Linked DNA regions of Homo sapiens: regions 2 and 3 are each linked to region 1. Evidence: fine-mapped expression QTL. A gene starts in region 1. Each other region holds a variant in brackets. All regions are shown on one strand. Distances are from middle to middle.

Region 1 (5,922 bases):
TAACAGATATTTACTTTACTTAATCTACTTGTTAGTGTGTATAATATCTATACATGTTGATGGCACCAACTTGAGTATATTAAAACACCCCCTTCATCTCCCTTACTGATATCAGCCTCATTGAGGCTCTTCTTACCTCTCTCTTCAATCTCTGTCCAAACACCTTCCACGGGGCGTCAACATCTCCAAGTTGTCCCATCCCAACCTATCCTATGACCTGCTCCAATATTCTCCTTCCCTAAACTCCCTTGCATTCTGCAGCTTCCATACTCAAAACCTTTAAGATCTCTTGAATGTTTCTACGATAATCTCCGGTCCTCTTAGCCAGACACTCAGGGCCCTCCACAACCTGATGACAACTTCATAGCTCCAATCCAGTCCAACCAATCCAGCTCCAACCCAACCTTGTGCTCCACCTCATTGTTTCTTTCCCTTGGATGCTCTCCATCCAGCTTTTACCACACTTCCACTTCAAGCCACACTTTCAAACCCTGTCACCTTCCTGGACCATTTTAGTTCAGAGTGATTTTTTCACCCACCTCTAAATATATAGACTACTCATTTATTTGGGCTCTAAGTCATACACTCATACGAAAATTGTTATGTGTAAATACTTAATTGTTAACACTTGACAAATGCAACAACAGAAATGGAATGAACTTTAGACATCATTTAATTCAGCATCTCCTGACATGCACGAAAATCCCCTTCCACATTTCTCCTTTGGGTGAATATCAATTGACAGGGTGCCGAGCCTCAAATGTGGCCATTTCGCCTCTGAATTGTTCTTAGACTGAGAGGCATCTGCTTTTTAAGAAAGGAAAACTCCATTCATCCCATTCCAAACAGGTGAGAATCTAATGCCATCAGGGAAAAAAAAAAAATATTTTGCTATCCCGTCTGAATTGAGAGTTCCCTGTGTACAGTTTACGTCCCTGTGAGCATCTACCACTCACAGAGCCACCCTAAGCACGCTCTGCAGTGTCAGCATCACCTGGCAGTATGCTAGAAATTAGAAATGCAAATTCATGAGCACCAGCCCAGACCCATTGAGTCGGAAATTCTGAGGGTGGGGCCCAAGAATGTGAGTTTCAACAAGTTTGAGAAGGACTGCGTCTCCTATATGAAATGGAAAACAGCTGCTCATCCTCTGTATCCTTGCATAATAAAAAATGATTAGTGTCACTATGCCACCATTTCCTCAGCGAAATAATTTCCATCCCCCCACCGCCTCCGAGGGTCTTGCACTCTCACCCAGGCTGGAGTGCACTGGTGCAATCACAACCCACAGCAGCCTTGTCCTCTCGGGCTCAAGCAATCCTCCCACCTCAGCTTCCTGAGTAGCTTGGGACTGCAGGCGCAACCACCACGCCCGGCTAATACGGCTAATATTATTTTTTCATTTTTTGGAGAGACGGGGTCTCGCTATGTTGCCCAGGCTGGTCTGGAACTCTTGGGCTCAAGGGATCCTTGTGCCTCGGCTTCACAAAGTGCTGGGATTACAGGCGTGAGCCGCCGCGCCCGGCTCTAAATAATTTCTTATCGCCCTCCCTCAGTTTGTTTTTCCTGTTATCGGGTCACCCACACATTCCACAATTGTCAAATAGGTGAGGGCACAGGTACGGAAGCGTCCCGCATTCCCTCCAGATTTTATCACGCTGAGACACAAAGAGAAAAATAGCTCCTGGCGACCGCATGAAAACCCCGATTTCAAAACAGCCACATGCAGTTTAATTTCCTTAAAAGCTTAGCCGGAAAAGGTTTCTGTGGCTTGCGACCCCAGCTGGGCTTGAGAGAAGGCTCTGCACACTGGGGCGGGGGCGGGCACAAGGTGATCGGAGGGAGGGGGATGACTCGCAGTTGTGTTTTGAGTGGTTGCCTTGGGTTATCTTGTTCCTCCAGCACACACACACTCAGTTTCTTGTCATAAGGGGAACCCTGTTATTTTGTAGACAAAAAGTGACAGAAGCAACTTTCGAAGCAAAAAAAAAAAAAAAACAAAAAAAAACAAAACCAAAAAGACGAAGAAGAAGAACAAAAGTCAACGTGAAATCTCCCCAGAGGAAAAGGAACCGCGCTGTTTGTCCCTCAGTAACTGAGCAACACCCCGGACACGAAGGGCTCCCTGTGACTTCTGCGGTTTTTCTTGCACTTCTCCGCGTTGGTTCACTTCCACCCTCGAAACTCTCCAGAAGCGAGAAATAAGGCGGGGTGGCCGCCACCCCCAGGCCACCAGCTGTGCGGGGGCCCCAGCTGCAGGGGGTCCCGGCCCAGCGTCCCTCTCGGCCCCTTCCCTCTCCCCCGGGGGAGAAGGGGCGGGTCCACGCGGCCTGGGCGCTGCGCCCGACACGCGGTAGGGGTCGCTGCGTCTCGGCGCGCGCTCCCACCGCGGTGAATAACGGGGCCTGGCTGGAGGAGAAAGGAAACCTGCTGCGGGAGGCGGCGGCGACCGGCCAGGGAGCGAGGGAGGAGAGTTCACTTTTACTTCAGTGTCAGCGCGCGGCGGCCGTGGCTGGCTCTGGCGAGAGAGCACCGAGGGAGTGGGTCGCAGATCTTCGGGCGGCTAGGGGAAATCGGCGAGAGGCGGGATCCGAGCGCGCCGGCGGGGCGCAGAGCCCGCGAGCCTGGCCAGCGAGGGTAGCCGCGGGGGGCGCGCCCCGGGCGGGCCCCCGGAGACGCGCAGGATGCCACACGAAGAGCTGCCGTCGCTGCAGAGACCCCGCTATGGCTGTAAGTGCGCCGGGCGCGCGGGGTTCCTGCTGGCCTTGGGGAGCTCCCTCCCCGAGGACGGCGTTGGAGAAGCCGAGGGAGCCGGTTGCGCGGCGCAGAGGAAATTGGAAGGCAGCAACTGCGCGGCTGGCAAAGTTGGGAGCTGGAGTTGCAAAGGGCAGTGAATCGCGTCCCCCCGCTCCTCCCGCCCCCCAATTCCTAATATCCAGCTGGCAACCCAGACCCTCCACTCCGCATACCCAAACGGGGTGCGCGGGCAGTGCGGGGATTGCGCTCTGGGACAGACCAGGTTGGGATTTTAGGGGTATCAGGTGAGGAGTCCGCGGAGCTCCGGGTCGCCGCCGGCTTGGGCCAGGGGGTGGCGTAAGGCACCGGATTCTTCCAACCCAGAAGGGGAGGAAAGTTTGTTTGCTGTGGCTACAGGTGGGCACCGCAAGTAGGGCGCCGGCGCACTCTGCTAGTGCAAAGCCGGCTTGACTGGAAGGGCGGGAGTCTCCTCCTGTCCCGCGCCCTCGAACTTCACCTGACCCGCTAGAGCCATTGGCCTCACAGGTGTAAGTCCCTCCCCTCTGAAACCCCCCAACCCCTTTCCCCCCCGCTCCCCTCGCGCGGGAGGATTGCTGTGTGGAGAGGACGCGGCACTAGGCTCCGGGGAATCCGGCGGGAGCCCGCGTGACTTGAACGAGATGGTGTCGATTACCCAGCCAGGGGCTGCCCTCGGAAATAGGTTGCTTTGGCCGATCGTGAGTGGATGGAGCCAGATTAACACCAACCACGTGGCTTCATGTGCAGAGTTCAGAGTCCTAAACATGTGCCAGGAAGCATTTCCTTTAAAACAAACAGAAAGTTGGCCTGCTGTCTCTCCAAGGTGGCCCTGTCAGTGAACCCAAGGCCGAAGACCACAGGTTAATCTTTGCCCAGGCTGGCCTTGGTGGCAGAGGTACCAGGTTTGGGTTAAGGTGGTGATACCTTCAGCAGGGTGTTTTGTTTGTGTGTGTGTGTGGTTTTGGATGGTGCGTAAGGCCACTGACTTGCTTAACTGAAAAAGGGCTCCTCAACTTGTGTAGGTTCTTTCCCCTCCTCCCCGCTGGCGTGTCAAAGATGGGAGGTTATCTTTCCTGTGTTACCCTTGCAGTGAGGGGGAGGCCTGAGGACTACAGCCTCTGTACTCTAATGCATTCAGCAGTTGACTGAGACCCAGCTTTTTGCCTTTTGGTAAACCACACAGACAGCAGAGCCTCTTGGGTTCAAGAGGGAACGCTGTGCTCATTCAGTGTTTGCAGTGCCAACCTCAGGTGGGACCCAGCTTTTTGCCTTTTGGTAAACCACAGATACAGCAGAGCCCGTTGGGTTCAAGGAGGAATGCTGTGCTCATTCAGTGTTTGCAGTGCCAACCTCAGGTTGGTGGAAGTACTTTAATGTGACCAGCTCTCAGAATATATGGTGGCTTCACTGTGTCAAATGATAAGATAACCACAAACTTCTGCAAACTAGGTGAATCTACATGAACAAATGATTTCTTGCTATCACATGATTGATGTCGGCCCTCATGAGCAATAAATAGTGCAAAATTTCCGTGAATGTGGTACATGAATGCAGCATTTCTGTCAGTCCCTGCATGTGCATCTGTGATGCTGCTTGATTTTCACGGAATAAATCTGTGTTTTAAGTGCACTCCAGAAGAAGCTATCAAGGGAGTCCAGATCTGGCAAGCCTGAAGCCCACTCCACAGGGCCGCTTTCTTTGGAAATCTTCATCCAGCTTTCTTCACCAATGTGGTGTAAGGGGGTGGTGTGCCATCTTGTTGGAATCACTCCCGGTTACTTTCCCTCCACTCATCAAGTGCTGGCATTCAAGTTGGTCACTTAACACTGTCAAAATGGAAAATATTTGCCTATGTTTCCAGACTTTCTTGTCACCCTGAAATATTAAGGCTTTAATATGACAGTTATCTCATTAAAATGAACACTTTTATAATTTTGGTTTATGAATGGTGTATTTTCAGTGTATTCAGAACATGATATCTAGCAGAATAGATTTTGGCGTTAATAGGCATTACCTAACATTACCTATTCATGCAGAAGAGGGCTATTTGGTGTGTTAGTGTAATTTCTGGTTGTTGTTGGCTTTCTGAGCCTCCTATCAACATGAGACTGAAAATCGTGCTGTGAGCTCTTCATGGGAAGGCTAGGGAAGGATAACACAGGATTGTCCTTGCTCTGTTGTGTTCTAGGGCTGTGCTTTTTCTTGTTTATTGGTTTGGTAAATACAGTTTCAGTAAAACCTCAAATTATAAGAAACAGGTGTTACCCCTAGCATTTAAAAATAAAGTAGCAATACATTGTAATTTCAGTTCTAGTGCTGAACGTTCTGAGTATAAGATGTTTGAGACTGGGCTTTAAACACAACTTTTTGGTAGTTTGAATTAAGTTGTCTATTGCTTATTTTGGGTCTGAGCTTCTGTTCTGCTCTCTCTCCTACCCACTTGACTCCTCATTTAATTCAGTAGTTCTTACACAAAGTAACTAACTCAGCTCAGGGCTGCTATGGTCTTTCTCCTCTGTACCAGACTGAATGTCTGTAAAAGGCCACATAATAAATTGTACTTGAGGGATTTCTCAATGAGTTCTCCATGAGGCCTCTGACTCTTCTCAGGTTTCTGACAGATGCAAGATTGCTGAAGTCGCCCTGATTTGCACACAGGAGCACTGGATTGAAATTAAATAGACTATTTTCTATTTAATTTCCACTGTTATTGGCCACATCTTCCTGCAATCTGTGAAGCTATTTTTGTATAATGTTAATACTACAAACAAAGCTGAAACAATTCAGTAACACAATTCTGAAGGGAAGAGGTGGAAGAAGGAAGTGATAGTAGGTAGCTGTTTAAACTAATGCAGACATAGACATAGTATGTACTATATATTGTATGTATAGTATTTTTCTATACTCAACCAAATTAAGATGACACTTACGCTTAGGTGTGATTTGCGAATAACTTGTGTTGTTGTAATGGATTATGATGTATCTGCCAAATTAATTCTGAAAACACATTGCTGCCATGATCTGTCGTAAGTTTTGTTCCAGTTACTTGAGAGTTAAAAACACCAGCAAGAGCAAAAGAGGGGTTTGTGACTAGGCAGATGACTTCACTTACCACTGATAACCCAATCAACACTTAAGTGACTACAG
Region 2 (5,922 bases), 210 kb after region 1:
AGCCTTTGCTTTAGTTGGTTACTGGGGGGAAAAAAAGCAAGTAACATTTGCATAACTTAGAAAATAGTCTTTTGTAAGTAGATATTATTTTTAAGCAAAAATCTCATTTGATTGCTGTGGCTTTTATCTATCAAGGTAACAGCACTACTAAGTTATTCTCCCTAGGACATTTCACACAGCCACTATAACACTTCTGTTAAGTATCTTGTCATAAAGGACATATACCATAACCAGAAAAGGTATTTCAGACACTAATATTTCCTTTCTGGAATTTGGGAACTTTAATACAGAGTATTTAATTTATCTGTGTCTTGGTTTTATTTTTTTCTTTTGTCAGAATGAGTTCCTGAAGTATTGAGTTTGATATCATGTTTAGGCAATTCTTCAAAATCTAAAATTTCTAAAATACACCATTGTAACCAGGCAGGAATTGCTCAGTATAGTAATTAAGTCATCTGAGGAGCTGAGAATTTTTCATGGACGTTTTGAAGGTGCATTACTCTTGCCTCCCCACCTTATTCTTGCCACATGCTCTGAGATCTAATTCCATATCTGAGTTGTGATGTGGGTGAGGTAAGCAGCTAATGGAAAATGAGAAATATAGAAGGTGAATTTAATGGAGAAGCTAGCTGCTGAATGCATTTCCTCAGGCTCTGTTGATTTCTTACTGAAAAGTTTACTTTTCCCAGTAGAACCATAAAGGAGCATTATTTTAACCTTATAGCCTACATCAGGAAGTTTTCTTCTTTGAGTTTTTGCTCTTTAAATTTGGTAGGTACAATTCTGTGTAGGTTACCTCATCTGCTGCCTCAAATACATGAACTCTAAAAGAACGCCCACTCTCTTGTGGACTAGAATGTTATAGTAACATGTGTTGATGTAAAGAAGTGGACCGTGGGCTGAGTGAAGCTCAGCAATCTTTCTTCAAATAGGATTTCCCTTTTATTTATAAACAGAGGAAGTGATGCATATGTTCCCAGAGGGCTTCTGGGTAATCTTTCAGCTCCTATGATGTCATTCACTATGACCTCAGCAGCTTGTATTCTTAGAAACGCAGCAGACAGCAACTTTAGCAGGTGATTTCAATCAAGTCAGCTGAAATGCACTCACTTCCAGGTGATCGGCCTTGGTTCTGTTAAGACCATTTTTGGATGGGGTGTTTTAAAGGTATTTAGAACAGCTTACCCAAGGGGGGTGACCAGAGAATGGCACTAAATATTCCATGCACTCCAGTTTATAAATCCTATAGGGTAAAACGACAGTACCTTGTATATAGATAATACTTAGACTTTCCAGAGTTCTGTCAATGTTTACAGATAATATAACCTGCACATTAGAGAAATACTTCTGCTTTTTCTTCAAACATATTTAAGTATTATAGTCTGGAATGATTTCTAGGAGTTTTAGATGGTTTCATTCTTCTTACAGGTAAATCTTTTCATTCTTAACGAAGTGGTGGTTATGGGCTCATCTATTCAAGAAATATTTAGCTAAATATTTTATCTTTACTTGAATGTCAAGCTGGAGATACTTTTTTTAAAAATGAGAAGTACTCATTCTATTTCATGGCATATCACAGTTGTGAAGTGACGGGTGATCATTTTAGATTAAATCTAATGGAAAAAATGAGAAATATGAAGTTTGACCTTAAAAATGCTTATATTCTAAGCTTATTGTTCATTAATATCTAGTTTCTTTAACAGTTCTTATCCATCAGTACTAACCTAGGAAGCAAAAGCTCCTTGGCAGTGTGTGTATATGTGTGTTTTATATATATATGTGTGTGTGTGTGTGTGTGTGTGTCTGTGTGTGCATGTCTATCTAAATGCATTTTTTTATGAATGGATGATAGTTTATTTTTTAATAATAAGGTATTGAGAAGTAACCTCCAGATAGATCCGTTTCATTAGAATTGTAAAAGCAGGTTTCATAGTTTGACTTCTGTGCTTTTCATTTGTGAACCCTATAGTCAGTCTTGTTCTCTCTTTCTCTCTCTCTCTCTCTCTCTCTCTCTATATATATATATATATATATATATATATATATATATATTTTTTTTTTTTTTTTTTTTTTTTTTTTTGGTGGGGGGAACAGAGTCTTACTCTGTCACCCAGGCTAGAGTGCAGTGGTGCAATCTTGGCTCACTGCAACCTCTGCCTCCTGGATTCAAGTGATTCTCCTACCTCAGCCTCCCAAGTAGCTGGGACTTGAATAGACACTTCATTTCTTTAAAGATGATGTACAAAGGGAAAATAAACACATGAAAAGATGCTCAAAATCATTAGTCACTAGAAAAATACAAATCCAAACCACAGTATGATACCACTTCACACCCACTAGGATGGCTGTAATGAAAAAGACAATAACAAGTGTTGGTCAGAATGTAGAGAGCTACTCAGGAGGCTGAGGCACAAGAATCACTTGAACACAGGAGGCGGAGGTGGCAGTGAGCCAAGATCATGCCACAGCACTCCAGCCTGGGGGACAGAGCAAGAATCTCTCAAAAAAAAAAAATAAAAATAAAAACCAGCAGCTGGGACCTTGATAGAAGTTGCATTGAATCTGTAGGTCAATTTAAGAAGTATTTCCATCTTAACAATACTAAATCTTCCAATTCATGAACATTGGCTCTTTTCATTTATTTGTCTTTAAGTTTTTTCCCATGGTGTTGTATAGTTTTCAGTGTACATGTCTTATGTTTCTTTCATTAAATTATGTCTAAATATTTATTTATAATTATAATGTATTTGTAGTTGCAGTCTTATGAATTGAATGTGTTCTTAATTTTATTTTCAGATTGCTTATTATGAGCGTATAGACACATAATTGGTTTTGTGCTTGCATCTTGCATCCTATAGCCTTGCTGTACTAGTTAATTAGCCTTTTGCAATCGGTGATACTAAAGAAGTTATAATGTACTGTGACTTAAAAGGAAAACTACTTCTTCATTTTCTAGGAGTTGTAGCTGTAGGGTACATCAATGAAGCTATTGATGAAGGGAATCCTTTGAGGACTTTAGAAACTTTGCTCCTACCTACTGCGAATATTAGTGATGTGGACCCAGCCCATGCCCAGCACTACCAGGATGTTTTATACCATGCTAAATCACAGAAACTCGGAGTAAGTTTTAGTATATCTGTTTCTTTTAAATTTTACAGGCTGGGTGGCAGAGGGAG[A/G]GAAGGAGGAGGATTTGACCCATTTACGTTAAATCTCATGAGCTTCTTGTCCCAACAATTACCCATGAATCAGAATGGAAATAATAGAGCTGTTATTTTCCTGGTAACAAACATTGGGGGGAAACCAGCTCCAGAGCTATTTATTGCTTTAATTCTTTGACTAAAAACTCAGTTGTAGGTGAGTTCTTGTTCAGAGTTCAATTCATTGACTATTTCCTTAGTAGATACTATGTGCACACTTCAGTCCATAGCTTCTGGTAGAGAAGATGGGGATACAGAGGGACACATAATACCATTTGAATGTTCTCTGACCTTATCTTCAAAATGCTTAGAAACTGATTGAGGCAGTGGACATTGTCACATGGAACAGTCAAGTAATAGTAAAGATAAGGGTGTGCAAAGTGTCAAAATGAGAGATACACAGATTGATTCACGGATGTTTGAGATTGTCGGGGACTAGAATCCTAAGAGAAGTTGGTGTGGAGGTAGAGCAGAAGCTGTCCTCTCGAAGACTAGTGGCTTTTTCTGAGTACAGAGCTTGTACCGCTATTATAAGGAGCCCCACAAAGACTGGCCTCTGTGATAAGGCCAATGGGCTGAGTGGTGAGGCTGATATGATCTGTCACCTAAGAGTGGGAGTGATGCCACCTGGGACCTAGCTACTTATGGCTGCCATGTCTTCAGGTGCAAACCCAACTGAAAGGGCGGTCATCTCCTCTGTCTAGGTCTTTAGAACCTAGGAACTGCCTCATTCGAAACAGGAAAAACATCCTTGGTTAATGCAAACATTTATTGAGAACCTACTATTTGTCAGGCATGATATTAGATACTCATGTGTATCATCTCATTTAATCATCACAACAATTCATAACAGCCTTCTGAACCATTTTGCCATCATTATTGCCATCTTACACATAATGAAACCAAGATTAAGTAACTTGTTGAAAGCTATCTAAAATGTGACCGGGCACAGTAGCTCACACCTGTAATCCCAGCATTTCGGGAGGCCAAGGCAGGTGGATCACTTGAGGCCAGGAGTTCGAGACCAGCCTGGCAAACATGGTGAAACCCCATCTCTGCTAAAAGATAAAAATAAAAAATAAAAAATTAGCCAGGTGTGGTGGCTCACACCTATAATCCCAGCTACTTGGGAGGTTGAGGGACAAGAATCTCTTGAACCGAGAGGTAGAGGTTGCAGCGAGCTGAGATCGCACCATTGCACCCCCACCTGGGTGACAGAGCAAGGCTCTGTCTCGAAAATAAATACATAAAATAAAATAAAACAAAATCAAGCTATCTAAAAGATAATTAGTCCTGAGACTACATGCAGCTCAGGTCTGTCTGATTCGGAAACATTATAATTATGTATTAAGGCAGATGGGAAAAGATGTTTATTGCAGCTTTGTTTGCAATCACAAAACATGAAAAACAACCTAAATGTTGTTAAGCAAAAAAAAAATCATGCTGTGATGTGCACATAGATGGAATATAGATAGGCTTGTGTATGTGTTGGGGGAGGGGCGCACACACTCTTACATGTGTCTAAAATATTTCTGGAGGGAGGATACCTTCTGGAAGGTGAACTAGAAGGCTAGTATGGATGGGAGATTTATTCTTCACTCCGTTTTTGTACTGCTTGGATTTTTAAATTTTTTAAGGAGTGTGTGTATTAAATAATTACTGTTTCTAAACTTTTAAAAACCAATGTAAATCCTATCCTCACTACTCCACTGCCTCATTGAAGGTGGAGAAATGTATCCCCCATGGTGGCGCCCTCTGCACTGCCAGCCTTCCAACAGGAACGGCAGTGGCATTGCCTGACCCTCCTCACTTTGCCAAGCGCCCCCACTCACATCAGTCTTTCTCATTTAAGCCTCATACCACCTGTGGAATGGGTGCTGTCTCATCTGATGTGAACGAGCCTGAGGCTCAGGGCGAATGCCTGGCCAAGGTACAGCCAGTGAGTGGGAGAGTGAGGGCTCATACACAAGCCTGGAGTCCATACATCCCAGGGGCAGGAGAGTGGGCCTTCACCTTGATGTTTCCACTGAGGTGGCTGTGGCCATGGCACATGGTAAACTTACAAGCATTGGAAGACAAAGTTATTTGCTTTGAAGATAGACATCATTCAAATCCTGGCTTTGCCACAAATTAGTTATGTGATCTTGGTCAAATCATCAAATCTCTATATGCTTATTTTTGCATGTATAAAATTGGAATAATAGTACCTGTCTTATAGGATTATGGTGAGGGTTCAATGAGAATATACAATATGTAAATATATATCAATATATAACTATAGGTACTATTAATGAAGAATATGTGCACGTGTTTGTGTAGCTATAGCATTTAGCATGGAGCCTGGCACCAAAAAAAGGGCTTAAATAATGTAGCTAGTATTATTGTGGGCACCTATGGTTGCCTCCCAAGTAAGGGGCGAGTGATGTCAGTATCTTAAGGTTCTTTTTTTTGTGAGGTGGAGTCTCGCTCAGTTACCCAGGCTGGAGTGCCGTGGCGCCATATCAGCTCACGGAAACCTCCACCTCCCAGGTTCAACCGATTCTCCTGCCTCAGCCTCCCGAGTAGCAGGGACTACAGGCACCTGCCATCAAGCCCGGCTAATTTTTGTATTTTGTAGAGACGAGGTTTCACCATGTTTTCCAGGCTGGTCTTGAACTCCTGACCTCAGGTTATCCACCTGCCTCGGCCTCCCAAAGTGCTGGGATTACAGGCATGAGCCACCGCA
Region 3 (5,922 bases), 140 kb after region 1:
CTGTTTTCCACAGTGGCTGCCCCATCTTACATTCCCACTAACAGTTCATAAGTGTTTCAACTTCTCATCATCCTCACCATCATTTGTTATTTTCTGTTTCTTTAAAACCAGTAGCCATCTTAATAAAGTAATATTGCATTACAGTTTTGATGTGCATTTCCCTGGTGTCCCAGTTCTACTTTTATATACCTGCTTGTCATTAAGAAAGCTCTACTTTTCAAGAATGCTGGAAAGAGCAGCTTTCCCCCGCTATAAACTCATAGCCAACCTTCACTTATATGAGAACATGCAGAGCATAGTTTCATCTCCTTTGAAATACTGTAATAAGAGTTTTAGATGTATTTGATTCAACGTGCAGAATGTTTATTTTTTGTGTGCGTGTATGTGTGTATGTGTTTGAGACAGCGACTTGTTCTGTCACCCAGACTAGCATGAAGTGGTGCAATCACAGCTCACTGAAACCTCACCCTCTTGGGCTGCAGCAATGCTCCCACCTCAGCCCTCTGAGTAGGTGGGACTATGGGCATGCAACACCATGCCATACTAATTAAAAAAAAAAATTGATAGAGATGGTGTCACACTGCTGGGCACAAGCAGTCCTCCTGCCTTGGCCTCCCAAAGTGTTGGGATTACAGGCATGGGCCACTGTGCCCGGCCACTATTTTTCAGTTAGTTGTGAGCATTTAAAAAAACAGAAGAACTCATAAAAAATCTGAATCTTCCACTTTTCAAGAAATCCCAAAGGTCAGGCCCTTGTGGTCCACATTTCCACAAGTAGCTGTGAGCTAGAGCCAAGTTGCTTACAGCCCCCACCCAGCCAGCTTCGTTCCTTACCGGTACCGGCCTCACCCCTGCAGGTATCTGTTTCCAAGCCCGCCCTGTTAGAGTGGATTTTCTGAGGCTAAAGTTAGTTTGGATTTATTCCAACTTATATAAATAATCGAGGTGATTAGATATGACTAATACTTCTGTTCTACCTAGCTACTTAATACCTCCACTGACACTTTCTTTCCTGATAAAATCTGAAATCTCTTCATTTATCCTTGCATCCCTTGAGCCCCTTGAGGGACAGGTCTTATCAACAGATTGGTTTCTACTGGTTAAAAGTTGCATTAAATTTGTCTCCTCATACCTGGAACAATTGGATATCATGTTTTGCATCTGCCCATCAGGTAGATACACCCTTTTAGCTCTGCCACATTCTAACATAGAGTGGCTCTTCTGTCATTGCCACCTAATTGTAGGCCTCTGCTTGCTAGTTGTATCCACTGTTTACGTTATAGAGAAATCTTTTCACATATGTAAGGACTTTATATCTGTGTGTGTGCCCATTCATTTAATAGTCTTTGTATATGCTAGAATTAAGGCACAAGAAATACAAATGTTTCATGTCTGTGGTCAGGAAATACAGTTAGCAATGGCTGTAGCTGTTTAGATTGTGAAGATGATAATTGGCCGCTTCAGATCCTGTGTCTTACAGATAATCAGTACTGGAAGGTGTAGGGTGAAGCTGCGTCACAGCCATGAAATGGAGGCATTGTGAAACCCAAGCCGGCCCAGAACACCCTCGCAGCATGATTTGTTATTGCACAGAGCTGGCTGTACTGCTGCTCAAGCCATATTTCCTGAAACTCAAGAACGCCAGAGTGGAATAGAGTTCTCTTATAACCAGCTCCTGTTCCCTCAAACCTTCGCATGACACCCCTTGTGGTTTTCAGCCCGTCTCTCTGTGTGGTCGCTAATGACTTCATTAAAGGTGAAGCATTTCAGTGATCAAGAGCCAGTGCTTGATGATGGTTGGAGGGACGTAAATGTGCAAGCGGGCCTCAGAGCCTAGGTGGACCGGCCTCCTTGCCTTCACTCTCAGGCATCACGGCCCTCCAGCATGTTTCTCTGAGGAGCTGTTGATCATTTGCCCAGGAGATGGAGCTGGGAACCTCGTTGTCACCAAGTCAGTACCAATGATTTGTGCTTCCTGTCAGGGAAACCTGTGGTGCATGTGTTTGTCTTCTGCTTCTCAGCCAGTTTCTTTTTGCATCCATCAATCTCTTCTTATCTGTCTTCTTTTTCCTGACTGGGCATAGTAGTCAGTTGTGAGTTTGGACTTGTATTTTCTTATTTTGTAACAGTTTGTTTCCTGGCTTCATCTTGCCCCTCCCTCCTAAAAGCTCCACTTGTCTTTTATTTCTCAAGGTAGATGGGACGAGGTTTTTTGTTTTTTGTTTTTGTTTTTGTTTTGTCAGGTTGACTTACATTTCCCCCCATTAGGGTGTGCCGCAGAAAGAAGTTTTCTCTATTTCTGATGTCTATGTCAATACAGAACAATAATGAAATTGTTAGGCAGGTGAAATGGTACTTAACTATCTGTCTGGAAACTCCTAAGCGCCTGCAAGTCTTTCTGAGTGAGAATTTACTGTGGATAGCAGTTAAGATGCCCCATTCCTGAACATGCTGTAGGAATGGGTCCTGGTAGGCATCACTTTCTAGCCAGTCCAAAGCCACGCTTTCCTGGCAGCCTGTTCCTCTCATCATCTTCCTGTTCCCATGGCCATGGCACCCCAAATGTCTGCTGCTCTGACCAAAAAGCTGGCAGACAGTAAATAAACTGACTTCTAAGATAAGAACCTTCATTTGAAACAATTTTTAACATGCCTTCTTTGTCAAGGAGTAAAGACCCTGAATCCCCCAGGGGTTCCTACAGCCCACGATGGTTCACAAGAGAGTCTACAATCCTCAGAGCCAAGAAGCACTGAGACTCAAGGACAGGGCCACTTGACAGAGAGAGCAGTTCCCAGCCGACTTGGGGCCTAGGAGGATATTCTGGGTGGCAGGGCTCTAATTGATTATTAACCTACATATAAAATCAAGGACATATAGCCAAGCACAGCAGCAAATGCTGCCACCTTGTGAGCTGCCTGTGGTTGTGCTGGGTGGAGATGGATCTAGCTAAGGCACACCAGGATGCAGCTTAGAGAGAACTTGGTCAGATTTTTACTGCTTCTGGTATAATTGGAACACTTTACTTCTTAAGCCTACTGTGTAATGTTATGTGTACAGAGTGAGTGGTTGCTTAATTAAGTGCTTTAATTTTTTTTGGTCATATATACACGTGGTGCAAAATGTAAAAGGCCCAAAGGAGGGGACAGTGAAAATTATATCTTTCTCCCACCCAGTTCCCCTTCCCAAAGGTAAACATTATTGCCAGTTTCTTTTGTAGCCTAGTGGGAATAATTTCTGAATAGTTATCCATACTTTATAGGTAACTCTATAGCGATAGAACTATATGTAGTTCTATACAGTATGTATGTAGTTATATACAGTACATATATATGTCTACAGTATATATGTAGTTATATACAGTATATATGTATATATGTACTATATGTAAATATATACATATGTAGTTGTATACAGTACATATATACATATCTATAGTTTTCTTCTATATAGTTATCTCTACATATACATACATATATACACATAACTATGTATATAAAACTATACAATTGTTACACTGTTGTGTAACATGGATGTGTATACAATAGCGATATGATTAAATATTTCTTATTAATGATGATTTCCTGCAGCCTTTCAATCTTGTTAAACACAAGGAAAATTAGAAATGGACCGAACAGAAGTGGCATCATAAAA[G/T]GCAGCTACTGTTTGGGAGCAAGGGACATGCCGTGGAGAGGAAATGTGTGGTGGTCTGAAATTGCACCAGTTTCCACTACAATTTTAAAACCATGCCTAGCCTTGCCAAAGGACCTCGGGGGCAAAGGTTAAGCCGACACACCCTTTAGGTCATGGTACACAGTATCTCTGGGCACATGGTGGACTCTGGTTTGTGCTGGACCCCTAAAAGTTATTTCCTTTTATCCCTGGTTCCCTCCCTCCCATAGGCAACATTCTGATATGTATACAATGTATCATTTAGATTTGTGTGTATTCTTGCAATGGATCTTGTTTTGTGTGTAAGTATTTTTAATTTATGCAAATGGTATGGCTATCTCATTCTGTTCCTTAGTTTTTTTTACTAGGCTTTGAAAGTTCCATCCATTTTACTAGGTGTGAATCCACTTCATTGCTATCTGTCTTTGTAGGGCCAAACTGAGATTTGGAAAATACTTGAAGCAATCTTTGTGACTTTTTACCCAGGTTTTTTCACATGTTGACACACATGACAAAAAGTGCATGTACTTTTGTGTTACTGTTTTACTCACTTTACTATTTCAACTTTCCTCCATTTTGCTAATTTGTCATAAATATTAATGGCTGTATAGTATTCCATTTATATAATCAGTTATTACTTCACACTCTCTCCTGTCATCAGACATCTGAGTTTTTTATTTTTAATATCATTGTGGTTACATGCGTATCATTGGTCTTTGTTGATTTTCTTTTTCTTAAGCCAGAACAGATGCCCAATAGGGAATTATTGAGCCAGAGAAAAATTCTCCTATAGCATGTGATGGAAGTGGCCACATTTTACCTCTTGCTTTATTTCCAGAAATGAACACAGGTGTCTATATCCATTTAATACACCCCTTTTTGGCCGGGTGTGTTGGCTCACACCTGTAATCCCAGCACTTTGGGAGGCCGAGGTGGGCAGATCACTTGAGGTCGGGAGTTCAAAACCAGCCTAGCCAACGTGGTGAAACCCCATCTCTACTAAAAATACAAAAATTGGTCAGGTGTGGTGGCGTGTGCCTGTAATCTCAGCTATTCCGGAGGCTGAGGCAGGAGAATCCTCGAACCTGGGAGGCAGAGGTTGCAGTGAGCTGAGATCATGCCACAGCACTCCAGCCTGAGGGACAGAGTGGGACTCCATTTCAAAAAAACAAAACAATACACCACTTTTTATTTGTAGTGCACTATACTTAGAGCTGTTGCCATAGGAATTGATATACCAGGCGTCATGGTGGTCAGCAGACAAATAGGAAACTCCTGTTATGTCGTCAGAATGAGTTGCAGAGAGTACCATCTGCTACCTGTATTGTACATCTTTCTGTTCCTCTGTCACGCCTGGCACAAGAGCAGCATTGGTTTAATCATCAGCAGCCCTTCTGCTCTCTGTAGTCAGGATTGGCAGTAACTCATTGGTGGGCAACACTGCCTTGGTCTTGCCGCTTGCACTGTGAACTGTAACTACGGACACACATGTCAGGAAAGAATGGTGCTTGGGATGCTCCTCCTATCTGTGCCTCAAACGTTTTCACTCGAGGGATATTAAAAAGTGGCCTACTGCTTATAAAGACTGTGTGTCAGTGAAGAGGAAGAGGTGGGAGTGGAGAGTGGGAGGCATTTGCAAGAACATATGTTGGATTCTTTTTTTCTCTTCTTGGTGACAATGATTGACGGCATCTAGTGAGTCCCTGTTTGTCACTTCCTTGGTACAGCTGGTAGTGGAGGTGGGGGAAATCAATAAGGGCTGGACAAAGGACATAGCTAGAGGAAGAAAGCACTGCAAATATGGTATTAAGATGACATTCCTCACAGTTGAATTTTTCACTGTGCTATTACTTCACACTACCTGCTGCGAGCTATTCTCTTTTGATCCTTTAGGCTGTAGAGGAATCAGTCTGTGTAACTCTCCCTCATTCACCACCTCCAAGAAAGGGTTAACTTTGGACATAAGATAACTGTAGTTTAAGGGGAGGAAGAGAAGGAAGGAAATTCATACTGGATACAGCTTTTGCCAGTTTTGTTTCTTCTATGTTGAAATATGGGCTGGCTTTATGGCATTCTCTTGGTGTTCTGGAATGTCCATTATTTAACAATTCCATATTGAATACTTGCTTGGGGCTTAGAAGAGGGAAGTCAAGTGTAGGAAGGAGTTGTGGCAATTTAAGTAAGTTTACAATGATCTTATTAAGCTTGTTGCTTTCATTTTCCTGCCTACGTTGGGGCAAAGACGTGTTAAAA

What was found.
Region 2: its variant is fine-mapped to the expression of IQGAP2 in whole blood (TOPMed, PIP above 0.99).
Region 3: its variant is fine-mapped to the expression of IQGAP2 in whole blood (INTERVAL, PIP above 0.99).

The regions. Positions count from the first base shown.
Region 1 is chr5:76,400,862-76,406,783 of GRCh38, forward strand. It overlaps IQGAP2 (IQ motif containing GTPase activating protein 2), which reads left to right and starts at 2,424. Exons shown (of 36, transcript NM_006633.5): 1 at 2,424-2,730. The coding sequence starts at 2,685. RefSeq lists silencers at 2,106-2,455, 2,626-2,735 and an enhancer at 2,389-2,889.
Region 2 is chr5:76,608,064-76,613,985 of GRCh38, forward strand. IQGAP2 (IQ motif containing GTPase activating protein 2) reads left to right here. Exons shown (of 36, transcript NM_006633.5): 13 at 2,957-3,120. It overlaps LOC101929109 (a long non-coding RNA gene), which reads right to left and starts at 906. Exons shown (of 2, transcript NR_134278.1): 1 at 797-906; 2 at 1-21. RefSeq lists an enhancer at 769-818. The variant A/G (reference allele first, on the strand shown) is at 3,177.
Region 3 is chr5:76,541,604-76,547,525 of GRCh38, forward strand. The region is part of intron 2 of IQGAP2 (IQ motif containing GTPase activating protein 2); the gene reads left to right. Among named protein-coding and RNA genes, the nearest start is that of F2RL2, 79 kb to the right of the region's middle. RefSeq lists a silencer at 2,943-2,992. The variant G/T (reference allele first, on the strand shown) is at 3,652.